6 separate regions of the Homo sapiens genome follow, and regions 1, 2, 3, 4 and 5 are each reported to be linked to region 6. Evidence: microRNA targets listed by miRTarBase, many of them from high-throughput screens and not tested one by one. Region 6 holds a microRNA gene; each other region holds the end of a gene's coding sequence.

Region 1 (3,000 bases), not on the chromosome of region 6:
TCAGAGACACCGAGAACCCCAGCACCCAGTTGAATTGCAGTGTAATCCTCCATTTTCTTTTCTTAACAGGGAAGCCCTAAGTAATCTAACTGCATTGACCAGTGACAGTGATACTGACAGCAGCAGTGACAGCGACAGTGACACCAGTGAAGGCAAATGAAAGTGGAGATTCAGGAGCAGCAATGGGTCTCACCATAGCTGCTGGAATCACACCTGAGAACTGAGATATACCAATATTTAACATTGTTACAAAGAAGAAAAGATACAGATTTGGTGAATTTGTTACTGTGAGGTACAGTCAGTACACAGCTGACTTATGTAGATTTAAGCTGCTAATATGCTACTTAACCATCTATTAATGCACCATTAAAGGCTTAGCATTTAAGTAGCAACATTGCGGTTTTCAGACACATGGTGAGGTCCATGGCTCTTGTCATCAGGATAAGCCTGCACACCTAGAGTGTCGGTGAGCTGACCTCACGATGCTGTCCTCGTGCGATTGCCCTCTCCTGCTGCTGGACTTCTGCCTTTGTTGGCCTGATGTGCTGCTGTGATGCTGGTCCTTCATCTTAGGTGTTCATGCAGTTCTAACACAGTTGGGGTTGGGTCAATAGTTTCCCAATTTCAGGATATTTCGATGTCAGAAATAACGCATCTTAGGAATGACTAAACAAGATAATGGCAGTTTAGGCTGCACAACTGGTAAAATGACTGTAGATAAATGTTGTAATTAGTGTACACGTTTGTATTTTTGTTAATATAGCCGCTGCCATAGTTTTCTAACTTGAACAGCCATGAATGTTTCATGTCTCCCTTTTTTTTTGTCTATAGCTGTTACCTATTTTAGTGGTTGAAATGAGAGCTAGTGATGACAGAAGGATGTGGAATGTCTTCTTGACATCATTGTGTATTGCTGGTAATCAAGTTGGTAACGACTACTTCTAGCAGCTCTTACCACTATGACTTAAGTGGTCCTGGAAGGCAGTAAGTGGAGGTTTGCAGCATTCCTGCCTTCATGAGGGCTTCTACCACTGACCACTTTGCACGTACCTGGCTCCCAGATTTACTTAGGTACCCCACGAGTTGTCCACATAAGCAGCTTCATCTTTACCTTGCCAGAGTTGACAATTATGGGATACTCTAGTCTACTTATACTTGTGTTCCCATCTGTCTGCCATCCTCTGAAGGCCGGGACCCAGTCATACATCCTTAGAAACCAAAGTATGGTTTTTGTTTTCTCTTGGAATGTCAGGTCTTAAGGCATTTAATTGAGGGACAAAAAAAAAAAAAGCCGATATAGTAGCTAGCTACTTAAGCATCCATGGGTATTGCTCCATATCAAAGCAGATTTGCAGGACAGAGAGAGTAAATTAGCCTTCAGTCTTGGTTTACAGCTTCCAAGGAGAGCCTTGGCCACCTGAAATGTTAACTCGGTCCCTTCCTGTCTCTAGTTCATCAGCACCTGCAGATGCCTGACTCTTGTTAGCCTTACTATTCAATACAGTCCTTAGATTCACGGTATGCCTCTTCCTATCCAGGCACCTATTCTGAATCACCATGTTGCTCTGCAGCTAGAGTTGATAGGAGAAAATCCATTTGGGTAGATGGCCTATGAATTTGTAGTAGACTTTCAAAATGAGTGATTTGTTAGCTTGGTACTTTTAAGTTTGTGGTACAGATCCTCCAAACCCATACTCTGAGCAATTAACTGCCTTGAACATAGAGAAAAATTAAGGCCTCACAGGATGAGTCTCCATTCTCTGTAAATGCTTATTTTATCATAGTCTTTAGCCTCTACTATGAGTAAAATGTTCTCTTCGGCCGGGTGTGGTGACTCACACCTGTAACCTCAGCACTTTGGGAGGCAGAGGTGGGAGGATCACTTAGGTCCAGGAGTTCGAGACTAGCCTGGGCAACATAGTGAGACACCGGATCTACAAAAAAATAAAAAGCCAGACTGGTGGTATGTATCTGTGTCCCAGCTAATTGGGAGGGTGAGTTGGGAGGATTGTTTGAGCCTAGGAGAGGGAGGTTGCAGTGAGCCGTGATTGCACCACTGCACTCCAGCCTGGGCAACAGAGCAAGACCCTGTCTTGGAGAAACCAGAATTTTGGAAGAGCAAATGGGGCTGAGTGCAGTGGCTCATGCCTGTAATCCCAGCACTTAGGGTGCCAATGTGGATTACCTGAGCCCAGGAGTTTGAGACCAGCCTGGGTAACAGTGAGACCCCCCTCCCTACAAAAGATTTTAATAATTAGTTGGGCGTAGTGGTGCATGCCTGTAATCCCAGCTACTCTGGAGACAGGTGGAGGGGATTGCTTGAGCCTGGGAAGCTGAGGCTGCAGTAGCCATGACTGCACCACTGCATTCCAGCCTGGTTGACAGAGTGACCCTTGTCTCCAAGAAAAAAAAAAAGCAAATGGGATTAAGGACTCATGGAATGGGAAGGGGAAGGGGAGTCTTACTATATGTGGAATAAACTTGCTCAGTGTTGCCACAGAGTTACATTACCAATGTGTAGAAGTCAGAAACTAGACTTCTAGTTTGGTTCAACATTTGAGGGTTGTTTTATAGCCATCAAAGTATTCAAGAGGTTGGATGGCACTCAAAAGATTCTACATGTCTAGAATCAAACTCAAATCTGGCACGTAGGTGCTTCTTAGTAAATGCTTAATGAATGCCACCAACTCTGCAAAGTATTCATTGATTTTGAGACCTTAGTCATGTTGCTACTAAAAGTAGGGCATATGACCGCCTAAGAAACAGAACTTCGAGAAGTCCTAACGTAACCACAGTAAAGCAGACTCCCCTTTCAGCAACCTCAAAGCAAAAAAAAAAAAAAAAAAACCAGTTAGCTGCTATATAAACACTATACCAAGCACTAGGCTTAGAGGAAAAGATGTCAGATTGTACTGTCACTGGCTATGTACCCATATTCTCTAAGACAGGGTAGCATTTGTCTTTCAAACTGCAGGGTTTGAAATCAGTTTTTGTGGGTGA
Region 2 (4,756 bases), not on the chromosome of region 6:
GCAGGGGTACCCATTTTGAGCAGCGGAAAGGGGAGACCTTGGGGAAAGAGACAAGGGATGCTGGGGTGCCACGCTGCCGCCTCTGGGTTGTGAGGGGCAGTGGCCTCCTCCTGGACTCTGGCTAAAAGCCTGCTCCTTCAGGCCACCTGCTGGGAGCCCCAGGTCTGTGCATGCAGAAGGGAGGAAGCCGAAGGCAGGTAGCACAGGGTGTAGGACTCCTGTGCGGCTGGCCTGGGAGTTCAGGAAAATGCCACTTGGGAGCTTTTCTCCTGCAGCTCGTTCTAAGGGCCCATCATCTGTTGTCCCCGCCTGCCCCAGCAGGGCCAGAGCAGTCCTCAGGCCCGGCAGTGGTACCTCCCAGGTGGGCAGAGGGAGCCTGAGTCTGCCAGGCCACCGGCTGGGCCCTGCCTCAGGTGGGCCGGGCCTCCTCAACTGTCCCAGGCCAGGTTCCATGTCAGGCTCCAGGGAAGCCAGCTGAGGCGCAGCCCTCGCAAACTTCCTGCGGAAGGGGCTAGCAGCACCCCCCCAGCCCCACAGCATTCCCCAGCGTGGCACAGGTCACTGGCCTGGCCATTCGCAGCCCTGTCCTGCAGCTGTAGCCGAGCTCAGGCAGCACCAGAGGACTGGCTTGTGCTGTTCTTGGAATGAAGTTCACCGTGGAGGCAGGACTCACCCAGCTGCTGCCCGACAGAGGAACCACTGCTCCTCCCTGGCCCAGCTTCACAAAGCCAGACCCTGGGTTTGGGCCGCTGGGTGAAGATGGATCAGAGCCCACAGAGTAGATGTGAAGTTCCAGGTTAACATGGCCCATAGACAGCACAACAAGACCTGAAGCCCCTCACAGACAGCTGCGCCCTGACCAGCTTCCTCAGGTGTCTCCATGTGATATTCTGGAACACACAGGCACCACGATGCTGCGCCTGCAGGCCACACCTACGGAAGCGGTGCAGTGAAGGCAGGAAGCCAGCGAGGCCTGAGGGACAGGTGCGGGGAAAGCGAGGTTTTGTTCTAGAAGCCACTCCACGCCCTCCACAGATGCCATCACTACACTTCCTTCAGGGCTGGGTCTGATGAGAGCTCAGAGTGCAAAAGAAATGCTTTCCTTCTTGGCCCTTTCAAATCTCACCCCAGCACTGAACAAGGTCTAACCTTTGAATTTCAGATGTTAGAAATGTGGAAAGATGATCCAATTATAATAAGAGGAATGAAGTGAATTCTCCTGAGGTGGTGGAAATAGCTCAGGAACAGAAACCAAGAGATCTGAGTTTTTGTCCCAGTTCTGCCACTTGTGAGTCGATTAACCTTAGGCAAGTTAATTCACCTCTGGGCTGGTTACTGAGGGTACTGGCCAGAGGCTCCATAAGTCCCTTCCCCAGTGCCCTTTTGGGACTGTGCAGAACCCAGAGAGCCCTCAGTAACAAAACGGTACTCAAGCCTGCCTTCCACTGAAACCCTGGCTCCTGGAATACTCCCCTCACCAGCCATAATGCCATTACTGTCCCTTCCAGCTGCAGTCCAGCTGGAACCCAGTCTAGAGCCCGTTCTCAATTTCAGAAATGCCCCAAATCACGAAGAAGTGATGCGTGTTGGGCATATTCAGTCTCTGGTGGTCCGAAGGGCAATTATAGTCAAGAAACAAGTTGCACTTGCTGTGCCTGCGGCAGCCGGTACTCTGCAGAAAGGAAACCACCAAACCAAACCTATTATCCAAGTCACTGTGTCCACTGTTTTTGCAGAGTAATATTATCTGAGATAACTTCACAGTCAAGCTCTGATTGAATTGTTAGCAATGGCTTTATTTGCTGCTTTGTCAGGGCAAGAGAGTAACCGCTAGATGAGACTAAGTCAGCTTTCCACAAACATATTTTTGCAGTGTGTTAGCATTTGTGAAGAGGTAAACGTATTTTCTGGAAACAGAGTATACTTGCAGTTTTGTTCCTGACCAACAGTAGACCAATCAGCTGAGGTCTGAACCCTAATTATGTACCAGAATCGCCTTGAGTGCTTGTTAGCACAATTCTTGGGCCTCAGGAATCCACTGAGACTTTCTCAAAAGTTCCCCTAGAGACTAACTACTAGCATTTTATTCAATTTCTGGAGTGAGTTCTGGATGCTTACATCACATCCCTTTGTACTGTTTGAAATCCTTCCCACAGAAGACACCTCACACACGCACAACAGTGCCACACTTAAGCCAACACCACAGGAAAAATCTCCTTCTAAAACTCCTTGACCAAATATCTTGCTTTACCTACATGGCTGACTTTTGAGTACGGCAGTCTTGGGCTTATGGCACTTCCCTGGAGGCCTGTTAATCACAATCACTAGCAGGACACAGTGGCTCACACCTGTAATCACAGCACTTTAGGAGGCCAAGGCAGGAGGCTTGCTGGAGCCCAAGAGTTCAAGGATGCAGTGAGTTATGATTGCACCACTGCACTCTAGCCTGGGGGAAAGAGTGAGACCCTGTCTCAAAAAACAAAACCCACACTAAAAGCATTGCTACAAAGTAAAGAAACAAGCAATTCAGGATGAATGACAAGCAGCCAGCACTATTTTCTAGACAATTCCAAAATATTTTGATTAAAGCATAATCTTGTCTCACAAACACCTGGCATGTGGATCAACATTAAAATGTTCCCCACCCTAGACTGCACTTAAACCTAGTGGCATAGCCTACTACACACCTAGGCTGTATGGTAGAGCCTATTACTCCTAGACCACAAACCTGGACAGCACGTTACTATACTGAATACTGTCGGCAACTGTAACACAATGGTATTTGTGTATCTAATTACAGTAGAAAATACATTATAATTGTATGGGACCACCATAGTATATGCAGTCTTTGACATGTAATAATGCACAGCTGTGTATCAAAATGCTAACCATGTGATGGCATGTGGTAGGACAATGTATAATTTCCCTTTTCTCTATTTTCTAAATTTTAAATGTGAATTTATAATTTTGTATAATATTTATTACACTTATAGTGTAATAAACATTGAAAACGTTCCCAACTTTTACACCAACTTTCTTATTCACCAGAGGGAGTTGTGACTTTTTTTTTTTTTTTTGAGACAAGGTCTTGCTCTGTCATCCAGGCTGGAGTACAGTGGCACGATCTCAGCTCACCTCCTGGGCTCAAGTGATCCTCCCACCTCAGCATCCAAAGTAGCTGGGACTACTGACGTGCACCACCACACCCGGCTAATTTTGTTTATTTTTAGTAGATGAGATCCCACTATGTTGCCCACGCTGATTGTCAAACTCCTGGCCTCAAACTATCCTCTTGCCTCGGCCTCCCAAAATGCTGGGATTACAGGAGTGAGCCACCACACTCAGCCAACCTTAACTCTTAATTATTGGAAATACCCAAACCTCAATGCCTTACCCCATATGGAAGGCAAAATCCTGTATTCCCAATTCACACATGAAAATTACACGAGAGGTAAGTCAAAAATGCTTCCTTTATTACATAAAGCCAATACTGCTACTTCTAAGTTCAACTGTTTGTGCATCTCTATATCGTTCAAAGTGTTACGCCCGTGATATTAACAATGACCGCTTCCAAGTGTCAGTGAACAGTGGCTCCCTGTGAGTGTCATCATGGTACCTCTCCCCATTGCACACAAGTCAACAAACTGCTCTAGAAAGTTAAGTTCTCCCAGGCCCAGAGTAAACATATACTCAATATTCTTCCATACTTTATTATACCATAAGAAGCAAACTTCTGAAGGAGATACAATTAAAGATACCACAGGTGTCCTAGCTTGTCAATATTCTGTTTTATCATTTTCATTAACAAAGCAGATTACAATGTAGCCCTAATTTGCATTATAATTAGTTGTTACAAGACACTGCACATTCTCCTGAAGACACACAATGATTTCCAAGATGCCAGGTCACTCTTCCAATCAGTGAATGGCGAGCTCACTGGCAGGTGCAGGGCTACTTCCTGTATTCCAATGATGTGCCTGAAATAGCGCTTTGCAAGATGAGCGTGGATTATGTGGACACAATTTTGAGGCAATCTCCATTACACATTTGGTAGAAGACTGCCTAACTTAATCTTACTATTAGTGTATTAGTGTTGTTATATTATGAAGACATATTATATTCCATTATTCTGCTTAGCTCAAGGAAGAATAAAGAATTTGGACCAAAATTATAACCAGATTATGAGCAATTTCCTAAGCAAAAGAAACAAAGTAAATGCTGAGGTTAATAAAGATGTAATAATTCTCTTCACATGGCCTTTACTGTTTGTGAACTGTGTAATTTAAAATCCTGAGCTTAACAAAAATCTTTATAAATCAACTCATCAAAACAGGCATTTGGCCAATAAGAATTTAATTTCACATCAATAAAACTTTAGACTTTAGATTTATTTAGGGCTGTTTGCATATGTTTATAGAATAGTTTACTCTAAAAGATGACAAGACAGCTCCCCCTCAGTGAGACCCTGGCCTAAATATATTTGCTTTATTTATATAGCAAGAGGATAACATTAAACATGGAAGCTTTCAATTTGTGGCACTGAATAATCTACACAGGGCATCCTTCAAAGGCTACAATTAAGGATCCACCTAACTTTTCAGCAATACAAGCCCGATTGAGATCTTCTGGTCCATTTGCTTGACATTCATGTTTTATGCCTAGAGAGAAAAAACAACACTTCTATTTACAATTATGGCAGCAGTTTACCTCTTTCTCTAAGATAACCAAACTTTTAAAAGACCAGTTCTAATCTGGA
Region 3 (5,064 bases), not on the chromosome of region 6:
GCTCAAGCAATCCTCCAACCTCAGCTTCCCAAGTAGCTGGGACTATAGGCATGGGCTAGCTTGCCTGGCTTTTTTTTTTTTTTTTTTTTTTTTTGGAGACAGGGTTTCACTCTGTCACCCAGGCTGGAGTACAGTGGCACGATATCTACTCACTGCAACCTCCGCCTCCTGGGTTCAAGCAATCCTCATGCCTCAGCCTCCTGAGTAGCTGGGATTACAGGTGCGTACCACCACCCCTGGCTAATTTTTATATTTTTAGTGGAGACAGGTTTCGCCATGTTAGCCAGGCTGGTGTCGAACTCCTGGCCTCAAGCAATCCACCCACTTCGGCCTCCCAAAGGGCTGGGATTACAGGCATGAGCCACTGTGCCTGGCCACTTTTAAAATTTTTTGTAGAGATGGGGTCTCACTATTTTGCCCAGGCTGGTCTCAAACTCCTGGCCTCAAGCGATCCCCCTGCCTCAGCCTTTCAAAGTGTTGGGATGACAGGCGTAAGCCATGGCACCTGGCGAGGTTCTGCATCTCTAACAAGCTCCGGGCACTGCTGGTGCTGCCAGTTCCCAGACCATGCTTTGAGTAGCAAGGCCCTAAAGCTGCACTGTCCTATCTGGTCGCTGCTAGTCACCTGCAGCAATTTAACTTAGCAAGGAGAATGAAATAAAAGGAACAATTCAGTGCCTCAGTCGCATGGGCCACATTTCAAGTGATGAGCAGCCCATGTGGCCAGTGGCTGGTGTGTTGGACTGTGCAGGTGTACAGCACGTTCATCGCAGGAAGTTCTTGGAGGGTGGGCATGGTGCCTCACGCCTGTAATCCAAGTGCTTTGGGAGGCCGAGTCACGAGGATCTCCTGATCCCAGGAGTTTGAGACCAGCCTGGGCAGCATAGTGAGAGCCCCGTCTCTATACAAGAAAAGAAAGTTCTCGAGGATGGCGCTGCCCTGAGGTTTGGAGTAGGAGTTAACCAGACAGCTGGGGGAGGAGAGAATGGGCTTCTGCCTCAGGCTCAGCGCACACGAAGGCCACTGCAAGAGCTAGGAGGAGGACCATGGAATTTGAGTGCAAAGAGTAAGGAGGGAGTGAGACTGGAGACAGGGCCGGGGACTCCCTGGGCTGTGGCGGCCTTAGGGCCATGCAAGGGCCTCAGGCCAGGGGAGCCCCTGATGGGTCTGTGGCAGGCTGGGCTCCATCTGGGGAGATGGGAGTGTGGGGAATTCGGTAGTGCTTTTCTCTTCATGGCGTCACTTGCTTTTCCCTTTGCATCGGCCTGGGGCCCTGGGGCCTGATTTGCAGCATCAACAGCTTTTCCACTGCTGTGTGTCAGCCCAAGGGCCTTGTCACTGTGAGAGGGTAACGTGTGCCACGCCCTTCCTCCCCAGGGGCTCCATGTCCAGCCTGGAATCCTGCACCAGCGGCTTCTCCCAGCTCAGCGCCGCCACCTCGTCCTCCTCCTCCGGCCAGTCTCATAGCAGCTCCCTGGTCTCCAGATAGCCGGGCCCAGTGTTTCAGGGCCGCCCGCTCGCCTCCAGTGTCCAGAAATGTCCAGAATGAGAAGCCAGCTAACTGCAGGGCCTGGGACCATGTGGGCTGGAGCCCCAGGCCTAGATGCTGCCCAAGTTGGGGTGTCTGGAGCGGATGGCAAGGATCCAGAACTGGCCTGTGGGTGGTGTCAGGGCTCTTGAAATTGCAAGGACAGAACCATCTCCTTCCGGCTTCGTGTAAGGAAGACCAAGCCAAGGCCAAGGTGTCTACCATACCACACCTTTGGGACATCCGGGCTTAGCGACGTCAGCCAGGCCCATCTCCTCTCTGTCCACCTCTTGCTCTGCTTTCGCCATGCAGGGGACCATCACTATCAGGTGCCCTTCTCCTCCCTGCAGCTTGCCTGCATAAGAGAGCCTCTTCCTCCCAAAGGCTCCAGCCCACTTCCCAGAGCTGAGTCTTAGCCTGGAAGGGGGAGCGATTGCCAGGTCAATTCCTGAACCAATCACAGTTGCCAGGCACACTGGAGAATGCTGATTGGCCAGCAGGGTCATGCCCAATCTGGACCAATCACCGTGATCCAGGGTTGCAGTGAGGTGCAGTGATTGGCCAGCCTGGATCACATGCACATCTCTGGAACCAACCACCTGCTCTCAAAAGCACTAGTGGGTGCCTCGAGGAGTACTGGGGTCCCCCCTAAGAAGAAGGAGGAAGGATGCTGGGGAGGCAGAAATGAAGGGTGTTTACCTTGGCATCTGATTGCATAACGTTCTGTTATGCAGTATCAAGATGTGCTTGGTGAGCAGTTAAGTGAGTTACAGGCGCTGCTCTTTGTGGGGAACAGCACATCCTGAAGTGAAAATCCATGTTCCCTGCACTTGGCCAGCATGGCCTAAGCCTGACCATCCCTGATTGGAGAGGGTGGGAGAGCCCTGGGTTTCTGCTAAGTTCCAGGCAGTGATGGGGTGACTGAGGCTGTCTGTATACCCCACTGGAGATGCCTTTCTCTCCTAGGGAACTGTTTAATTATGACTGTTTTTGGTTGTAAGCCACAGAGACCCATGCCCAGGTGCTTCAACACAAAAGCATGATCATTCATGGGTGCATAGAACTGGCCAGTCCAGGAGGGCTTGCTTCAGGTAAGGCTAGATCCAGGGTCTCAACATGGAGTCTCGATTCCCCCCGCGAGTGGAGGCTGCTGTGTTTGCCCTGGGGCAGATATGACTCTGGAACTAGGTTCAATATTGACATGAGTTCCCCTAGTTACTACACAGGAGCGTCTTGGGTCTCCTTGGGGCCTGAGGACATTTCTCCTTTCCTTTCCTGGACTCCCCAAAAGGCAGCCAGTCAGGGGTCACCAACTTGAAGCCTGATCTGGCCTGCTTTTAGTGTTGCTTTTTTGCCTTTAGAATGGTTTAAAAATTGAGGCATTTCGCATCGAAATCAGGATTTCTGGCTTCCCTTAGGCATTTGGGAGCACCAGCAGAATGGGGTCACTATTGTTGCATGAAGACAACACCTCTGCACCCCTGGATGTGGCCACGCCAGTCCCTACCCCATTGACTTGCGCCCAGCCCACATTACACATCCTCATGACCTGCGTGGCAGGAGTCTCACTGACATGGCTCTGTCAGCAGTGGCTGGTACCCTTGTCTCCTGGCCTTGCTTAGAGTTGGGGCTCATCTCTGCTGCAGTAACTGAGCCAAGGGGTGGTTTTGTGGCCACAAGAATCATCTTTATGCAGGCTCAGCAATGCAGGGCCAGGAAACTTATATCTACGCCAGCCTCAACCCCAAACCCAAGGAAGAGAGAAAGTGTCATCTTTTCAGATACATCCTTCTTCCTGCTGGGAGAGAGCCTTGCCCACCTTCCTGTTGGCTCTCTGTCCGCTTCTCAGGTATCTGAACAAAATAGATTGCTTTGCACTCTGCGTCAAGGTGTGTGTGCACATGTGTGCATAAGAGACCGACTGATTGGAAGGAGACGTTCTCAAAACTAATTGCTCCCATATCACCAGGCATTTATTGCTGAGAGCAACTTGCAATATTTTCAACTATCTTTAAGTGAATTTCTAGCTTTTCTCTTAAAAACTAGGTGTTATCCTACAAGTATGCTGGGATAAGCTGCCCTGGCAGTCTTTATACATTTATTGTCTAGCCCCAGAGAAGGACACAGAAGCCTTTTACGGAAGGAAGCTGGAACTGCCTGTTCCAGAGGCGGGTGGGGGGAGGGGAGTCTGCTATCAGCTGTCCACCCTTAACAGTGGGGGTGAGGAACCTCAGGCCCTTTCAGTTCTGCTCTTGAGAGTGCTCTCTCCCTAGGGAAAACCAGCCCAAACTGGCTTAAGCAACAAAGCAAATTCCCTGGGTCCTGTACTAGGGATGGCTGAAGGTGGGTGCTGCTTCAGATATGGCTGGATCCAGGAGCTTAATGTCCTCAGGCCTCTCAACTGCACCCAGGCCTCTTGACTCTGCATCTCTTTGCATGCTGACCTCATTCTTTCTTCCACCTGGCGGGAAAGATGGCTGCCAGCAGCCCCAAGCCTATAATTTCAGGATTCACACTCTAAGAGATGCTTTTCCATCTCAAATCTCATGGAAGGCTCTGATTGGCCCAGCTCGAGTCACATGCTTATTCCTGTGGGCCACACTGGCAAGGAACTAGGGTCCCGTGATTGACATTCCCTGCAGAAGCCGCAGCAGGATTGGGGAGGGCCATTCCCCCAATGGACAAGAGAAGCTGGACCACAGAACCAGCAGGTATCCATGGTGGCATCTGCTACGGCCGGCTCTCCTCCCATGTGGAGGTCTCGGGGACCCACGTGGAAGCATTATCAAGGTCATTCTTCTTGCCTTCGGGAGGACTGGAATTAAAAATAATCCAAGGAAGGGATTGCCAAGCTTTTGGCTTTTGAATTTCCCCTGAGCCACAAAGGCTGGAAGTGCCTTGGCTTGGGCTTCTTGCATCATTAGTTCATTAATCCATTGTGACCAGGACAGAAGCAACCCACAAGCAGCATTACTGTTGGTGTTTGGGCACCTGGGCCTTGAATTTAGGCCAGGACTCAAACCCCAGCCTTCCTTTCACTAGCTGTGTAACCTTGACCAGGTGACTTAACCTCTCTGTGCCTCAGTTTCCTCATCTGTAAAGTGAGGATAGCAGTGCCTACCTCAATAGGTTGTAGTGGGACGAAATGAGGGAGTAGCTGTAAAGCTTTCAGCACAGCTCCCAGAACACAGAAAGCGCTCCATTAATGTCAGTGGTCATTCTGATTACTTAATGCTTCGCATCCAAAGACTCGTTTTCTTCCTGAGGTCGCCTATCCCTGTTTTTCGTTATTGCACCCAGAGAAAAGTAGGTGTCAAGAATTATTGCCCTCTGAGTTGGGTGTGCAGTCTTTCTCTTTTAGAAACTGCTTGTGTGGGCGGGGCGTGGTGGCTCATGCCTATAATCCCAACACTTTGGGAGGCTGAGGCCGGCTGATCGCTTGAGTGCAGGAGTTCAAGACCAGCCTGGGCAACATAGTGAGACCCTGTCTCTACAAAAAATTAAAAAATGAGCCAGGCGTGGTGGTGCGTGCCTAT
Region 4 (5,064 bases), not on the chromosome of region 6:
AGAGGGACGGACTGGGTGAGGGCTATGCTGGTCCAGGGTGGCACTTAAAAGTAAGGGGATCGTGGTGGATACTGCTTTGAGAGTGACACATAGCACCCCGGTGAGGGTCCCGTGTCTGAGACAGGACGTGCCTGCCGGGAAGCTGGTTGTCTGCAACCTTGTGTGCACTCACCTGGAGGGGGGCGGGGTGGGGGTGGCAAACCACAAAATCCCTAGGAGAGGCAGCAGGCTGGGGAGGGCACCTGAAGTTGGTCTGGAAGTCAGTCAGTGCCTACAGGCACCAAATGGAAACGTGCTCATAAGATAGATGAGAAGCAAAACTGAGGGCCCTTTCTGGAGGTGGAAGACAGCCTGTGGCGGCAGTTCCAGATTGACACAAGAGACGGGCTCAGGCTGGGGCGGCACCATCAAGGCAGAGCACTTCTCACAGAATGTGGCAAGCTCAGGATTGATGACCTTTTCCAATGTTTGCCACGGGGAAGCCCAGAAAGGCTGTCTTTTGGTTGCAGCAGGCAGGTATGCATTGTGATTGATGGCTCAGGGCTGTTTTTATGTTTGCGTTACATATGGAATGGGGGCACCGGCGCTCTTGCCAGTGCTGAGAACCTCTCAGTGTCTTGATCAGGCCCTGGGAGGCAGGCATGCTCCCGACTCCCCCCGCGCATCCCAGGGAGGCAGAATCCACGGGAACTGGGCTCGTACCCAGGCACTGCAACCAGTCAGGGGATGAGGGGCAGGACAGAAGGGCTGTGCGTGAGTGCTTTCGGGAGGGCAGTGCCAGCAAATGGACAGGAGGGTTTTGACTTGGGCCAAGACAACGCCGTGGAGACACTTGGACGCTGATGGGCTTTTCTGTGACAGAGTTTGCTCAGGAGATGGGCAGAAAGCCTCTGGGGCGCTCCCTGAGTTAGGACTCAGCTGCGGCCTCACGGTGTCAAGTGCCTCAGCGATGGTGGACAAGCGCACGTAAAGGGAAACTTGGTAGCGTGCAGGGAAGTAGGGAGGTGCATGCTAATTCGGGACCACAGGCTAGGAGGATGCCTTTGTGCTCAAAGAGACTGAGCAATGAGGTGTCACTAAAGACAGCATTGGCGAAGCAGGCTCCACTGGGAAAAGTGCATGCGGAGCTGTCTGCAGGGAAATCCCCTTTGAAATCAGATTGCCCAGCCAAACTGCGGCTGGCTTGGGAGAAAGGGTGGTCCTTCTGACAGCTCTTAGGAACCCTTAGGAACCGGGACAGGGCTCCCAGAGCCAGCCAAGGAAGCCCCAGCAGTGTGAGCCTTGACAGGGGATGTGGTGTCACAACAACTGCAAGTCACTTGTTGGCCATCCCAGGCACCAGGGCCTGGGAAGAGGTCTGGTCCCCATTCCAGGTGGGAGGGTTTCCCAGAGTTGGTCAGGGGACCCGGCAGGCACTCAGGCCGTCTGGCCAGCATGGACTGTGGGGCAGATGGTACAAGCAGGAAAGTTGTAACCCACCTGGAAGGCAAGCTGCGGGGGGAAGGGAGAATAAGACAAGAAAAGAAAGCTTTGTTCTGTGTGGAACAGAACAAGCAGAATGCCCAGCACCACAGAGATCGCAGCTGCCCAGGACACAGTGACCCACAGCAGCAGCCCTGGGAGACCGAGAGGGCACCGGGCACGGCAGCAGCCTTGCCCAAGGGGAAGCAGATGTGTTTACTGGGTTTGCCATGGCTTTAGGGAAGGGGACCACTTCTTGACACATCACAAACATGCAGGGAACCTGGCTTTGCTGATTCAGGGGCTAAACCTGCTGGGCGGGATCTGGTAATGTTGGAGGTGGGGGCGGGGCAGAACGAGCTGCCCTGACCCATGGAGTGCTTCTGCGCCCACGGGCTCTTCCTTTCCTGGCAAGGTGCAGGCACCTCAGATGGAGAGTGTGGAGGTGTCTCCGGATGGATGGAGTGGCCACGGTCGTGCCAAGTGCCCTCAGCATCTGCCCTATCACCCCCGCAGGTAGTTGATGGAGGGCTCCACTGTCCCCTTCCTGGGTCCCACCACAGGTAGTGGGGATATGGAAGAAAGGAGGTTGCTCCAAAGGGAGCAGCGGCCAACCCTCTCACTCTGCCAGGAAGTAGCGCTGGGGATCCCAAGGAAGAGAGAAGGAGGGCTGGAAGCAGATTTCCCCCTGGCTTCGCAGGAGGGATAGAACTACACAGGGTAGGTGCTGGGCAAGCGGCAACCTTTATCGCCATCATTGTGCAATAAATGCGCCCCGATGCGTGGTAGAGCGCCCCCACCCGTTCCACCCCGGTCCCCATCCCCACGTCGGGATGCGCCGACAATCGAAAAGGCCAGGGTTACTGACCTTTCTCTCCAGGCTGGCAGTCAAGGAAAAGACATTAAGAAGGGATTTCTCTGTGCCGGGGCACGGTGCTGCCTGCTCCACGGGTGTTGTCTCTTTCAGTCCTCTCAACATTCCATCCTAATTCCACGAACTCCCCCGCTGTGCCCCTCCCCTTCCCCCACCCCCGCCTCCAGCCCCTTCTTGAAGTTTATTCTGAGCACTGCAGCCCCTCTCTATCCCTGCCTCCTGTGAGCACCGATAAGCCTGCATTTGTCACGGAGCAGACGTTCCAGTCAGCTGGCGTTTACCGTGCTTTTTTTTTTGTCCTTCTCTCCGTGCAGACTGTAAACTCAAGGACAAGGACCATGACTCTTTTCTGCCAATCAAAGCACACAACTTTATTGATGATACACACAGATGCGGACTTGGGTGGAAGAGGTTAAGTCGGTACAATAGACAGAAGAGCAGTGCACTTTTTTGATGAATAGGTTCACTATCCATCAGGCGCGTGTAGAAGAAAGAGCAAACGAAAAATAATTCAACCTAAGCTGCAACAAATGCATTTTCAGCTCAAGCCGCGATATGCCTCTGGTCTCTGCAAAGCGGTCCCGCTTGGACAGGGAGACCACCACAGGCAACAATAGCACTCGTGATGCTGTAATTTGATGTTCTTTGTCCACAGCAGGCAGCTGAAGTGATCCCCTCACCACATGAAGGAGGCTGCAAGGGAGGAATTTACAATGCCAACATTGCCTGCAGACTGCACAACCAAGAAGTTACTCAAAGCTCTGTGGGAGCCCCTGCCTGGCCAATAAGAGTGTGGTCCTGGATTGAGCCCTGGAACTTTCACCCAATGAGGTGGTGATTGGCTAAGGCTGGATCTTCAGTAGCACCCTCTGCAGATTCTTTGACATCTGCAAACCAAGCGCGTTGTGGGTGGATTCCGTCCCATTGTGTTCGAGAGGGCCGTTTATGGGGCAGGGGTTTCCAGGAGAATCTCTCTGTTTCCATTTCTGATAAAGAGGGACATGAATGAGAAGAGCATCTGGGCACCGACTAACTCCCCCGCCAAGACTGGCTTTTCAGACAAACCCATCAGCGGTTTCAAAACCTGAACCTTAGCACATCCACTTCCCTCTGATATCAAAGGAAACTTCAAGTCTGAAGCGGACTTGGCAAGCATGTTATTAATAACTGTCATGCTTATTAACAAATTTAATCCGGCCTGCTGCAGAAATGAGTTGCAGCAACGTGACACAGTCTCCCGACACACTTCATTGATGTACATCTTAATCTGGCCCTGACTTTCAATACTCGCATTTAAGTTATCCGGGGCACACAAAGCCTCTCTAACAGTGGGGTCTGGAGTGGGGCTCGTGTTTCTAGCCATTGAGAGGCTGGCCAAATGGCTATTGATATCCTGGCTAAATGGAAAGCCCGCATCCTTGGGCTCGGCAAACAACAGTTTTCCCTGAATGAAAAGACACTTGGAGAGGTCCAGAACACAACTGCCATTTTTACAATTTTGAGCACTCCAAGTATTTTTATGTTCATAGGGGAATGGCCGCTGTTTTATTGGGTGTGCTCGGTTGGCCTTGCCTCCCCCTGAGGGCCTGTCCTCAGTGCCACCTGGGGCCCCAGGTTCAGTCCAATCCCCATCCTCAGTCCAGGGCCGAGCCATAGTTTCAAAATCAAACCAAATATCAGGCTCCTCCTCATCCAGCTCCTGGTCATCGTCCCACTCCTCTTCCCCCTCCTCCTCCAGCTTCTCACTGTCATCTCTTCCTATGGTCAGTTTGTAAACGCAGTAGCAGGCACCAGCCCCAATCATCAGTCCTGCCGCCATCCAACCCACTTCCCGAGCCCGGCCCATGCTCAAGTCTGTGCCAGCCTTGGGGCAGGACAGGAGAGGGCCTTGCTCCACCTGATTGAAGAGGTCTCTCAGGTCCAGGGTGAGTAAGGATGGAGGGTAGCAGTCTTCAGCTTCTTCCAGGCTCTTGTAGCTCTCTTGTGATGAATCTGTGGGTGAAACAGAGTATTAGGGCTCGGGACTATGTTTGGCTTTGTGCCTCACAGACAGGGTGGATTTCGAGTTGGTGATAAAGGCAGATTAACAGGATACAATTTCTTTGTTCTTTTCTTTTCTGTCTTCCTCTATCGACCTCAGGAGCCCCCATTTCTCTTCCTGGGTCCACAGGGAAGGGCAGGAGATGGGTCTCTGCTATGATAGCTAGGAGGGTGACAGTGTGAGTACCTCTCAGGTAGTCTCCTACACCAGACCTCCACCCCCAAAGATTAAGGGCAGTTTCTCTCATTAACCTCTACCAAAGTCAGATAAATTCCTTCGTTTTCCCTTGTCTTCTGTTGTCAGTGGTCCCTCCACGGTGATAGAGGATAGAGTCTGGCAGAAGGACAAATGCAAAGACAGGTAGGCGGCAATGGAGAAATGAAAGTGTAGTGGATGAACTGAGGACACAGGTCCCAATTTCTGTTTTTGTGAATTTTAGACACTTGAGTTTAAAATATTTCTCATACTCTACTGACTTTCCGGACGCAGGCCTCCTCCGCCCCACTTGTCGTCCGCCATTTCCCCAGCAAAGGCCGCCACACCCCTTTCCCTGCACTGAAATGGGAGTGGGTGTGGAGAAAGAAGGGGCCAGGAGAGGGCGACTCGGACCTGGCCCTCTCATATCCCAGCCCCCCTCCTCCGCCACCCCCACCCATGGTCCTGGGCTAATCCCACCTTCACACTGACC
Region 5 (5,064 bases), not on the chromosome of region 6:
TCACATGGATACTATGGCCCATTTGCAGAAAGCCCATTTGCAAATAGTCACATTGGTCCAGCCCAAATTTAAACCACAATCTTCCTATTAAATTAAGCATGCCTATTTGCAAATTTTTTTGCAAACTGGAGACTCACTCATTTTAAAACGAATTTTCACTCTTCTTTCCTATCAGTGATTTTACTGTGTTTATGGTAGAGTGAATTCAGTTAAGAAAATTCTTTTTTTGTAACATTTTAAAAAATTGTTTTACTAAATTCTGCAATAAAAGGTTAATATAACAGATTCACTTTTTATCATTTCTAAGCAGTTTTTGAGTGGAAAGTCATTGTAGAAGGAGAAAAGGCACCTAACGGGTTTATGTAAATTTATTAGAAATTTGATTTTTCTCCTAGTAGGTAAAACAGGAAAAGTAAATTTTGTTGAAGATCATTGGGGGTGGGGGGTGATTCTACCTATTTTGCCATCAATGGTGAGTTCCTCAATGAAGCCTCAAATCAGATTTCTGAGCTATAAACTTAACTCCAGCACATAACCCTAATATATTTTCAGATTTTTCATCACATACCTCTCTAGGAGACTTTCACCATGTACATCTCTAGCAGATTCTCCAAACAGAGCTAGATAGAAATAGATATAGAAATAAAATAATTGAGAAAATAATTTCCACTTCTAATTTTTTTTTTCTGCTCTGTTGCAAATAGGCTTGTTCAAGCATGGAAAGATGCTGCCAATTTATTTTTAGATAATTTTATCAACATAATTTTACTATGGTGCTCTAACCATTAAAATATGAATGGGCTTCATATCCTATCACTTTTTATTGTGTTGGGAAGGGTTTAATATTTAACAAAACATATGAATTAAAAGCATCAAAATTTTTCATAATGTATTTCATATAATTGAAAATGAAACTTTCAATGCTAGTTTGTCCTTTGCATCTATATTTTCAGTGCTTTTCTATATAGTTTTACTTATTAACTTTTTAGTAATTGATCCATTAAAAACATGTTAAGAGACTTCACTGTTTTTGCTTCTTACTGGAAGAGTGATAGTGTCATGAAAAACAATCTTTCCCACTATGATTTTTTAGTGATCCATAGTTACAAATGAGCAATGATGCCCTCGTAGGCCTTTTTCTGTTCTTAGCAAAAAGGCCACACATTTTCCTGTAGAATAAAGGTCACCTCTAGAATGCATTGGCACTTTGTTGACATGCTCAGCAGAGTCTATGCATTAGAAAAACTTGCGCATTTAACCATCTTCTTCTTTCTAGGTGAGGTCTTTCCAAAATTGAGTTGAAGAAAGAAAGAGGAAACTCAGGAAAGTGGGGAGAGAATGGACCGTTGTTGTGGAGAGAATATTTTGGTCTAACTGACTCTTACTTTGGCATTTGCATGTGCTCCAAGATGCCATGAAATTTTATTTCCTCAAATATAACAGCAATATCCTTGTCTTTCCCCAAAACTTAGCAAGTTTTTCAATGGATTGAAATTTCTGTTTTGCAAACTCATTAACCAAAACAATGTCTTACTCCAAAAGCGAATTTTAATTAATCATGTCATTTTTCTAACAGGAAATAACAGACAACATGAGCAATGGAGGACCACAGCTGATATTTAATGGAAGAGTGTAATCAATGTTTTAAAGAATTGAACACTTTTTAGGATTTTCATGAGGCAATGAGACACCAAAGGACTAGAAAATAAAACAGTTTTTGCATTTGCATTTATCTCTCCTGAGCATCCACTAAAATTATTCTTCCTAAAAAATATATTGCCTCACTGGTTTCTCCACCCTTTTTTATGGGGTAAAAAACTTTCCAGAAACATTCTAGTACAATAATTTCAAGAGGCTTTCCAGATTGTTCTAAAGAAGACTTTTCAGGAAAAAGAGATAATAAAACAGAAATAAAATGCATATTCTATACAAACACTATTTGACTAGCATGATTATTATATTTGTAATGACATATTTCATATGAGTAATTGAAAAGTGCAAATATCAAGAAATAAAAATAACTTATTGACGTCTTTGTTCTGAAAGACAGATGGCTTCAAGGATGCTACAATTCAAAACCTCAGTAATGCCTTGTTATAAAAACATTGTAATTATTTTCAACTTGTGAATGAAATATATTTCATAATTTATTTGTAAATGACAAAAAACCTCAAGCATAAAAAAGAGACTTTTTAGAGAGAGAGAATACTAATCTATATGGTATTTTTGCATTTTTGCACAAAGAGTGAAAAGTTATATGTGAATATCATTTAAGAAAATAAACATGTTTTGATCATACTGTGCAGATTGATCTGCATGTTCATGAATGAGCCTAAGAATAAAGTATGTGTGTGAATGTGTGTATACATACTGTAAATATAGAACATGTATACAGCATATATTATAGCATACATGAATGTAAATAGGTATTAGAAAAGAAATTGTGATGCTGTGGGGGTATTATTAAGATTCTACTCCAATAGAAATGGGAAGGCAATTGCTCAAGGCCCTTCTATGCCCACAAAATCACATGTTTAATTTCTACTAAAATTGCCCATTTTTCTTCTTTTAATTAGGTTTTGTGTAAATATCATTGTGGGTGATATTTATGAAGATGAGTGATCTGAATAGTGTAGTATACAGATAGACTACTTATTTGACTATTTCACTATGATTATAGTATTTATGTATAGCAATTAAAATTAATTTATAAACGAACATGACTTTAATGACATACTTCCGTATTTATAAAGATATCATGACTTAAAATTATTGATGATATTGATATTTCAAACACCTTGCAGTCCAGTTAAATGATACAAAAGGGCAGATGATGTAACCCCCCAACAATGAAGTTATAATTACCTTTGCTGTAATCTAATTTAGGTGTTTTGTTTTACGATTCTCATGAAATAATATAGGCAGTCCATATATAAGAAAGCCTATATCCAAAGATCCTGAAAGAATTCTTTGAGGAAAAAGTGAAAAGATAGGCTAACATTTGTATAGCTAGATTCAATCCTTTCCTCTAATAATGGAATGTTAAAATAGCAAACAAGAACAACACATATAAGTGAAAAAACAACATATATCTGAATATATTTATCAGAATATAACCTCTGGCAACAGACAAAGAAATCTATCATTTTTAAATACATAACTCTCACTATATTGTATACTTTTCTTTTTCCTCAAATCTAATCAATTTTCAAGTCATTTTTTATGAGTTACTTGTTGAACCATAGGTAAATTAAAATATTTACTGTTCAGTATGAGAATATAATTTATAAACAAAACATGAGTTTTAATTGTGCTAACACAGTAATGATCATTCAAGTTAATGAAAATTTGAAGGTCTTTTATAGCAACATGATCATCGTTTAACCTATTTAAATCAGCTCACTTAAAATTCTGGCTGTCATCTATTCAACAGAAATAACTGGACTCTGCTTGTTTGGTGCACTTTTTGAAGTCTCCCAATTCCTTTGGATAACTTCATTGCCTAGTAGATTACAGAAGTTGTCCATAAATGCAACCTCATATAGTGAATCAACATCATAACTATTCATTCAATGCCACAAACAGGCATGATCTTTGCCAATGAAAATCTAAATTACATCATGAAGATATTTGTGTGTGTATGGTCCTCCTGAATTCATGCAAGGATGTAGTTTTGTACTGAAAGAATAAACACTGACTCTAATTTTCAGTAGCATTTCTCTATAAACATGCTTGTTCAATACAAAATTATAATACATCAGAAAAATGTTGTAATGCCTTTTGAACTGATCTATAACATAACACATTAAAGGACAAAAGGAGACATATCACTGCTTTGATGTATAGTTAAAAAGAGATGCCATCATCACAATTATTCAAATAGTTTACAGTGTATGTTTAACCAAGTATAGATATATTTTTAAATATGATTATTTCTACCTAGTATTTTCAGAATTGAGTTTAGAATGATTTACTTGGGATGTGCGGCGATTCTTTTTTAGATAAGTGGGGGATGTTAGGAAGACATTGTTCAAGTGCTTGAAACTTTAATTTGGACAATACATTGAACCACATGCTGGAATGTTTTAAGTGACTACCTTATAGTTTTAGTATGAGCCTACCCTTGGAAGAAAGTAAGGTGATACTAAATTAGAAAAACTATGTGAAACTGGAGTGGTGGTATACTTTGGACCATATCAAATAGGTAGAGTATTATAAGCATAAAAGAATAAAATTGGGCTCGCTTTGGAAATTTTAAACATATATGTGTATGTGTGTATATATATGCATATACATACACATATGTGTATATACACACACACAATGGTTTGGAAGTGGAACAGGAAATGATAACTCTACTGACATGTCTATAATAAAATGATGTGCTTTGAAACTATATATGGTGTTGGCTTTCTTTTCATTATAATACAGAAATACCTTCCCCAATAGCTACATGAATAAATATGCTATTCTGAGAGTGGCAAGGGATGGCCTGCTGTGAATGAGGGGAAAGAGACAGTCACAGACGAAGGATACAGAATTAAATAAGAATATTATTTGAGATACAAAAGCTAGAATATGTTCAAGTATAGAGAGAGACTGGTTGAAGCCATCAAACAAAATGATTATAATAAGAATGTGAAGTCCCTGAGGGCAAGAGAAAATAAGACACAGATCATATGAGACAGAATTTACTATGGTAGGACAGAGACTGCAGGTGATGTCACAAATTAAACCACAATATTTAGAGAACCCTGAAGGCCTACTTGAGTTTGTCAAATTGGTTGTTACTGGCATTTGGGCTGAATAATAACTTATTATGCAGACTGTCCCACACATTTCAGGCCATTTAGCATCTCTCATCTCTACCCACTAAATCCCAGGAGGACACTCTTATCATTTTAATAACCAAAAATGTCCTAACAAATGTTTACCTGTTTCTTTGGTAGGGAGATATTAGCCAGTTAAGAATGACTGAGGAAATCCTTTGAACGTAATCCAGAGCAGCCAATTTTAATGCTACCTATAAGTGAAGACTTGAATTGCTCAAGGTCATAAACTCAC
Region 6 (4,598 bases):
GAACACAGTGTGCACTCCATCACTATTTATGGAATGACCAAGTCATTCCTTGTTATTTGATCAACTCATGAACCATGTAGTTATGCTATAAACAAAAGAATCTGATTTTTTTAAAAAGAGAGAACTTTATCGAAACAAAATCATGGTGGCCAAAGTCACCAACCCTCTCAATAGCCATTATGGCCATGGGCAGGACACAGCTCTGGCAGGAGAGTGAGCTCAGGGAGACGCCTCAGAAACAAAGCTCAGACTGCTCAACTAACTCTCCACAAACTCCAACAGATGTGGATGCCAAGTCTCCCCAGAGGGCGGTGCTGCTTCCAGAAACCCTTCCCTGGCAAGATTTGGCACTCAAAAATTCTGCCCTGGAACAAAAGCAATAATGATGACCAATTACCTATCAGTCAGTCCGGCTGATGACAGTAACACTACCGAGCCAGCATGTCTCCAGAGATTCATCTTACCAAGGGTGAGGGTCACTTGGAGCAGGTGACAGACGTCTTGTGTGAATGGGCCTCTCACTGGTCAACTTCCCCCAATAATGTAGTGCAGACACCAAAGCCCCTTCCAGAAAATCACAGCCTTAGAAGTAACCATCTTCCTCAGAGATTCGATTCTGGTCATGGCTGTGGCACATGAAGAAGCTAGTGCACTGCGATGGCCCGTTCACATACATACCTTGGGTGGGAGGTGAAGCCAAGACCCCTTGCCTGAAGGCGGGACGCTGTCCGGGAAGCCTTCCAAAGCAGTATTTGATACTGAAAAACTGGATGTCCCTGTATGATTCGTCATAAATTAAGCGAACACAGCAGGGATAACCACTCTTCAAGTACCGAAGGCTGACGGTGACGGCCCACGTCTTCACCAGAGTCTGCCTTCCTTCCAGCTAGTCCGCCTGAGGATGAATTGGGGACAGAGGGTTAGGAGAGTTGAGGGGTGCACAATGTCAATCAAGCCCTTGCTTTCCAGCCAACCATGCATTCTTGCCCCTGGAGAGGGACGAAGGGCAACAGCTCCTTCCAGAAAGCTTCCCCAGCAAGATCCATACTCAAAAAAGGCACTCCCTCATGAGACTGGGCATAAAGAAAGCAAACCCGGCAAGGAGAAGGTCCTTTCAAGTGCCAGAAAATAGCATGGCCTAGGAAACCACCACCTTGTCTTCTGAGCTGATGTGGCCTCCAGAAGTCACTGGATAGGTAGGGACTGTGGATCAACTGACATACACCATTTATAAAATGTACGTTCTCTGATCAACCATCCATTCCCCTATCATGGACAGCACCCTGCCTCCAGGTCAGGGTCCTGCCAGGGGACATCTCCGGGGAGTTTGTCCTGAAAAACAGTGGTCCAATATGATAAGCCACAAACCCAGGCGAGGCCCCACGGTCAGCCTCAACCCTGCTCTGCCCCCGAGGCCTCCAGAGCCTGGAGGCCACAGCATGTGAGTCTTACTCCAATGAAGACACAGGCTCTGCCATGGGTCATCCTTACGAGTATTTCACGAGGTGCTGACACCAATGCCTCCTTTAATAATTCCTTGGAATTATATCCAGGAAAGAGGTGATGCTGAGTTGCATTTGCAGCAGAGAAAGCATTGTAGAGGGAACCTGCCATTGACGAGACCTCCCCAGGTGTGTCAGAGGAGTCCCCCTGCCTCCTCTTGTAGGTAGCCTGGATGCTGAGGGTCAAGGACAGAGAAAGCCTGTGACCTGGCTTGATAATCTGTCCTGTGGCCTCTGGCTCTGCAGCACCTCCTGGATCGTGGCCTCGTGCTGATGGCCAGAACCTTTCCCCGGAGTTGCCCTCCCTTCTGGGGGACCCTCATGGGCAGGCTGCATGGATAATGAGAATTAATGACCCATTTAATAGGTATCATCAATTCAGCCCCCTCTCTGCCTGGGACACGGAGTGGGGCTGAGCACCGAAATGGTCTTGCCCAGAAGTCCCCCAAGGACGGGTTGCTTGGGCCATTGAACATTGGGCATCGTCAGCAGACCCTCCCCCAGGTACCTGGTGATGGTGCTGACATAGACCTCCTCTCTGGTGGCGGGACACCTCCACACATTCTCCCACTGTGCAGGAATGAGGCCAACTGTGTGGTCTTTGTCATGAAAAATGCAAGAGCACTCCGGTGGTTCCTCACCAAGCCCCACGCCGCGACACGAGCACATCGGGTCCCCCGGCCAGAGCCTGTATCACTTCTAGGGCTTCTCCTGAGGGTGGAATGAATTCTCTGGGTTAGCTGTGCAGAGAACACATTCGTCAACAAAGTTCATATCCCTGCGTCACCTCTGTGCCCATACCTCAGGCGAAGCTGACAGTTTTCTTACTGTGAAGCCGGCACCTGCAGGCACCCATAAAGAACTGACTCCACACAGGGACCCCAGCGCACTGGCCACCTCAGATAGGACAAAGCCACGGAGGCAGAGAGCAGTGGGGCTTTGCAGCCACTCCAGGATGCTGCCCCACACAGGGACCACATCCTGAAGGGGGCGGGGCTTGGTGCCACTGCCCTCCACTGTGTTAGTCCATTTTCTGGCTGCTGATAAAGACATACCCAAGACTGGGCAATTTGCAAAAGAAAGAGGTTCAATTGGACTTACAGTTCCACGTGGCTGGGTAAGCCTCACAGTCATGGTGGAAAGCAAGGAGAAGCAAGTCAGGTCTTACGTGGATGGCAGCAGGCAAACAGAGACCTTGTGCAGGGAAACTCTGCCTTATAAAACCATCAGCTCTCATGAGACCCATTCACTATCACAAGAACAGCAAGGGAAAGACCCACTCCCCTGATTCAATTACCTCCCACCAGGACCCTCCCACAACACAAAGGAATTCAAAATGAGATTTGAGTGGAGACACAGCCAAACTATATCATCCACCAAACGGGGGATCAAGGACAGCCTCCCTTCTCCATAACCAGGGGACACGCTGGAGTCCGTGTTCTCCTCTCAAACCAGGTGCTGTGTGCAGGAAGCCCTCCAAGGCAGCATCACAGAGCCGAAGATTCATTAGCTGCATGGTCTCCATCGGGAAGGAGTGAAGGGAACCTGGCACCGTGCCAGTGTCTATGAGCACCAAGCAATGGACCAGGAGACCCCACCAGGTCGGCTGGCAGAGGGAAGCTGACCTGAGGAGGAAGTGGCACTGGGCCAGTGACCTGGGTGAGGAGTGGGAACACAGCCCAAGTCGGCCTGCCCTTCACACACCCACAGAGGTGCTGGACTTCATCCAGGGAGCCACCCTGAGAGGAAAACAGGCTGTCCTCAAAGGAGTCCGCATGGAGGAGTTAACCTCTCCTCAAGTGTCCCAGTGGAGTGGTAAACCTTGTCCTTGCCCCCAGGGACCCACCCTGAAAAGCACTGGGTCCAGGAAGGGACCTAGCCCTGTGGCTAAGCCACAGACCCAGCCACTGGGGGAAGGCACAAGTTGGCATTCAAAGAGGAGGGAACCTCACATAACTCGCAAAAACACATCGCATTCACAGCAAACACAGCAAAGCAACCCAGGGCTCTTCCCTCCACCAGCCTCACTTCCAGGAAGCTTCCCTCACGCAGCACGGAGCCGGGGCAGGGGCTCTCAGCTCACACAAGGCACACACTCTCACGTCTCCTGTGGGGGCGGCCCTCCGAGGCAGAGTCTGATATTCAAAAAGAGGTTAACCATGTATTATTCATGATGAATGAAGCGAACATAACACGGATAACCTCTCCTCAAATATCCTTGCATAGTTCTGAAACGAAAACCATGGCCTCTTCCCCACCGTTGTCTTTGCTTCCAGAAGATTCTTCTTGGGATGAGCTGAATCCCAGGGTTGGGGCAGGGAGGTGTTCACATCCTGCAAAGAAAGCACACGTACTGGCATTGACCTTCCATTCCCGTACCTCAGTCTCAGGGCCCAGGCAGCCCTGGCACCAAAGTCAAAACCCTGACATTGGAACCATGCTCAGAAAGACTTCTAAGGCAGGTTCCATTAAAAATATATGAAAGCTTCCTCCACGGATTCCTGAAAGACGGGATTTGATGACGAGAACCAGCAGAATGCATGTCAGAGATAAGCAAAGCCATCATGAAGAATTCTGTTTCCGATAAAATGGGGTGTCACTGATCCCTGAAGACAGGGTCCCTACCGCAGAGATGGTCTCAGTTCCTGGAATTTCCTCCCGATGACTGCTTGGAAACGGAGGGTCACAGAATTCCAGGGCCCAGCACATCAATAATGAATAAGCGTGCCGTTGACCTGCACCCGACAATCTTGCAGCAGCTTGACACCGGCGGCCCCTCCCTGAAGCAGGTCTTGTATCTGGGAAGCCCTTTGAGGCATGATTTGATTTTAAAGAAAAGTAATCTCATGCTATTTACGCATGTGAAAGTGAACCCTTGTTCACAAACCAAAACATGGCACGTTGATTCTGGGCCGTTCTCCCACGATGGACGGTATATGGCATGTGGGGAGACAGGCGACACATATCACAGGGAAAGCACCTGGTCTCCAGCCCCAAACCACTGTGAGTGTTGTCCACAGACCGGCGGTATTAGCATCACTTGAGAACTTGCTAAAAATGCAGAATCTTGGTCCCTGAATCAGAATCTGCTTTTTA

Evidence for each region. Region 6 holds the annotated microRNA hsa-miR-655-5p (AGAGGUUAUCCGUGUUAUGUUC, at 3,687-3,708, opposite strand). A microRNA usually pairs through its seed, bases 2 to 8, with sites in the 3' UTR of a target mRNA and lowers its output. Matches are read on the target gene's strand: a 7mer-m8 pairs with bases 2 to 8, a 7mer-A1 pairs with bases 2 to 7 and ends in A, and an 8mer does both.
Region 1: the mRNA of PTCD3 is a reported target of hsa-miR-655-5p. Seed matches in the 3' UTR shown: 8mer at 1,845-1,852 and 7mer-A1 at 2,818-2,824.
Region 2: the mRNA of DSTN is a reported target of hsa-miR-655-5p. Seed matches in the 3' UTR shown: 8mer at 4,220-4,227.
Region 3: the mRNA of SEC14L5 is a reported target of hsa-miR-655-5p. Seed matches in the 3' UTR shown: 7mer-A1 at 3,755-3,761 and 7mer-m8 at 4,595-4,601.
Region 4: miRTarBase lists ARMCX6 as a target of hsa-miR-655-5p. Seed matches in the 3' UTR shown: 7mer-m8 at 2,744-2,750.
Region 5: miRTarBase lists TMEM196 as a target of hsa-miR-655-5p. Seed matches in the 3' UTR shown: 7mer-A1 at 2,077-2,083, 7mer-A1 at 2,167-2,173, 7mer-m8 at 3,114-3,120 and 7mer-A1 at 3,534-3,540.

What each region holds. Positions count from the first base shown.
Region 1 is chr2:86,137,400-86,140,399 of GRCh38, forward strand. It overlaps PTCD3 (pentatricopeptide repeat domain 3), which reads left to right. Exons shown (of 24, transcript NM_017952.6): 24 at 70-3,000. The coding sequence ends at 160. Among named protein-coding and RNA genes, the nearest start is that of SNORD94, 3.0 kb to the left of the region's middle.
Region 2 is chr20:17,606,939-17,611,694 of GRCh38, reverse strand. DSTN (destrin, actin depolymerizing factor) reads right to left here. Exons shown (of 4, transcript NM_006870.4): 4 at 1,776-4,658. The coding sequence ends at 4,549. Among named protein-coding and RNA genes, the nearest start is that of DSTN, 39 kb to the right of the region's middle.
Region 3 is chr16:5,013,482-5,018,545 of GRCh38, forward strand. It overlaps SEC14L5 (SEC14 like lipid binding 5), which reads left to right. Exons shown (of 16, transcript NM_014692.2): 16 at 1,378-5,064. The coding sequence ends at 1,489. Among named protein-coding and RNA genes, the nearest start is that of NAGPA-AS1, 18 kb to the right of the region's middle.
Region 4 is chrX:101,612,440-101,617,503 of GRCh38, forward strand. It overlaps ARMCX6 (armadillo repeat containing X-linked 6), which reads right to left. Exons shown (of 3, transcript NM_019007.4): 2 at 5,064; 3 at 2,686-4,327. The coding sequence starts at 4,181. The coding sequence ends at 3,279. Among named protein-coding and RNA genes, the nearest start is that of ARMCX6, 3.0 kb to the right of the region's middle. RefSeq lists an enhancer at 1,170-1,732.
Region 5 is chr7:19,718,647-19,723,710 of GRCh38, reverse strand. TMEM196 (transmembrane protein 196) reads left to right here. Exons shown (of 5, transcript NM_001363562.2): 5 at 1,577-4,396. The coding sequence ends at 1,583. LOC107986774 (a long non-coding RNA gene) reads right to left here and starts at 1,693. Exons shown (of 5, transcript XR_001745112.2): 1 at 569-1,693.
Region 6 is chr14:101,048,682-101,053,279 of GRCh38, reverse strand. It overlaps MIR655 (microRNA 655), which reads right to left and starts at 3,730; the gene lies at 3,634-3,730. MIR381HG (MIR381 host gene) reads right to left here. Exons shown (of 3, transcript NR_104192.1): 2 at 2,011-2,213; 3 at 1,485-1,678. MIR544A (microRNA 544a) reads right to left here; the gene lies at 4,532-4,598. MIR487A (microRNA 487a) reads right to left here and starts at 834; the gene lies at 755-834.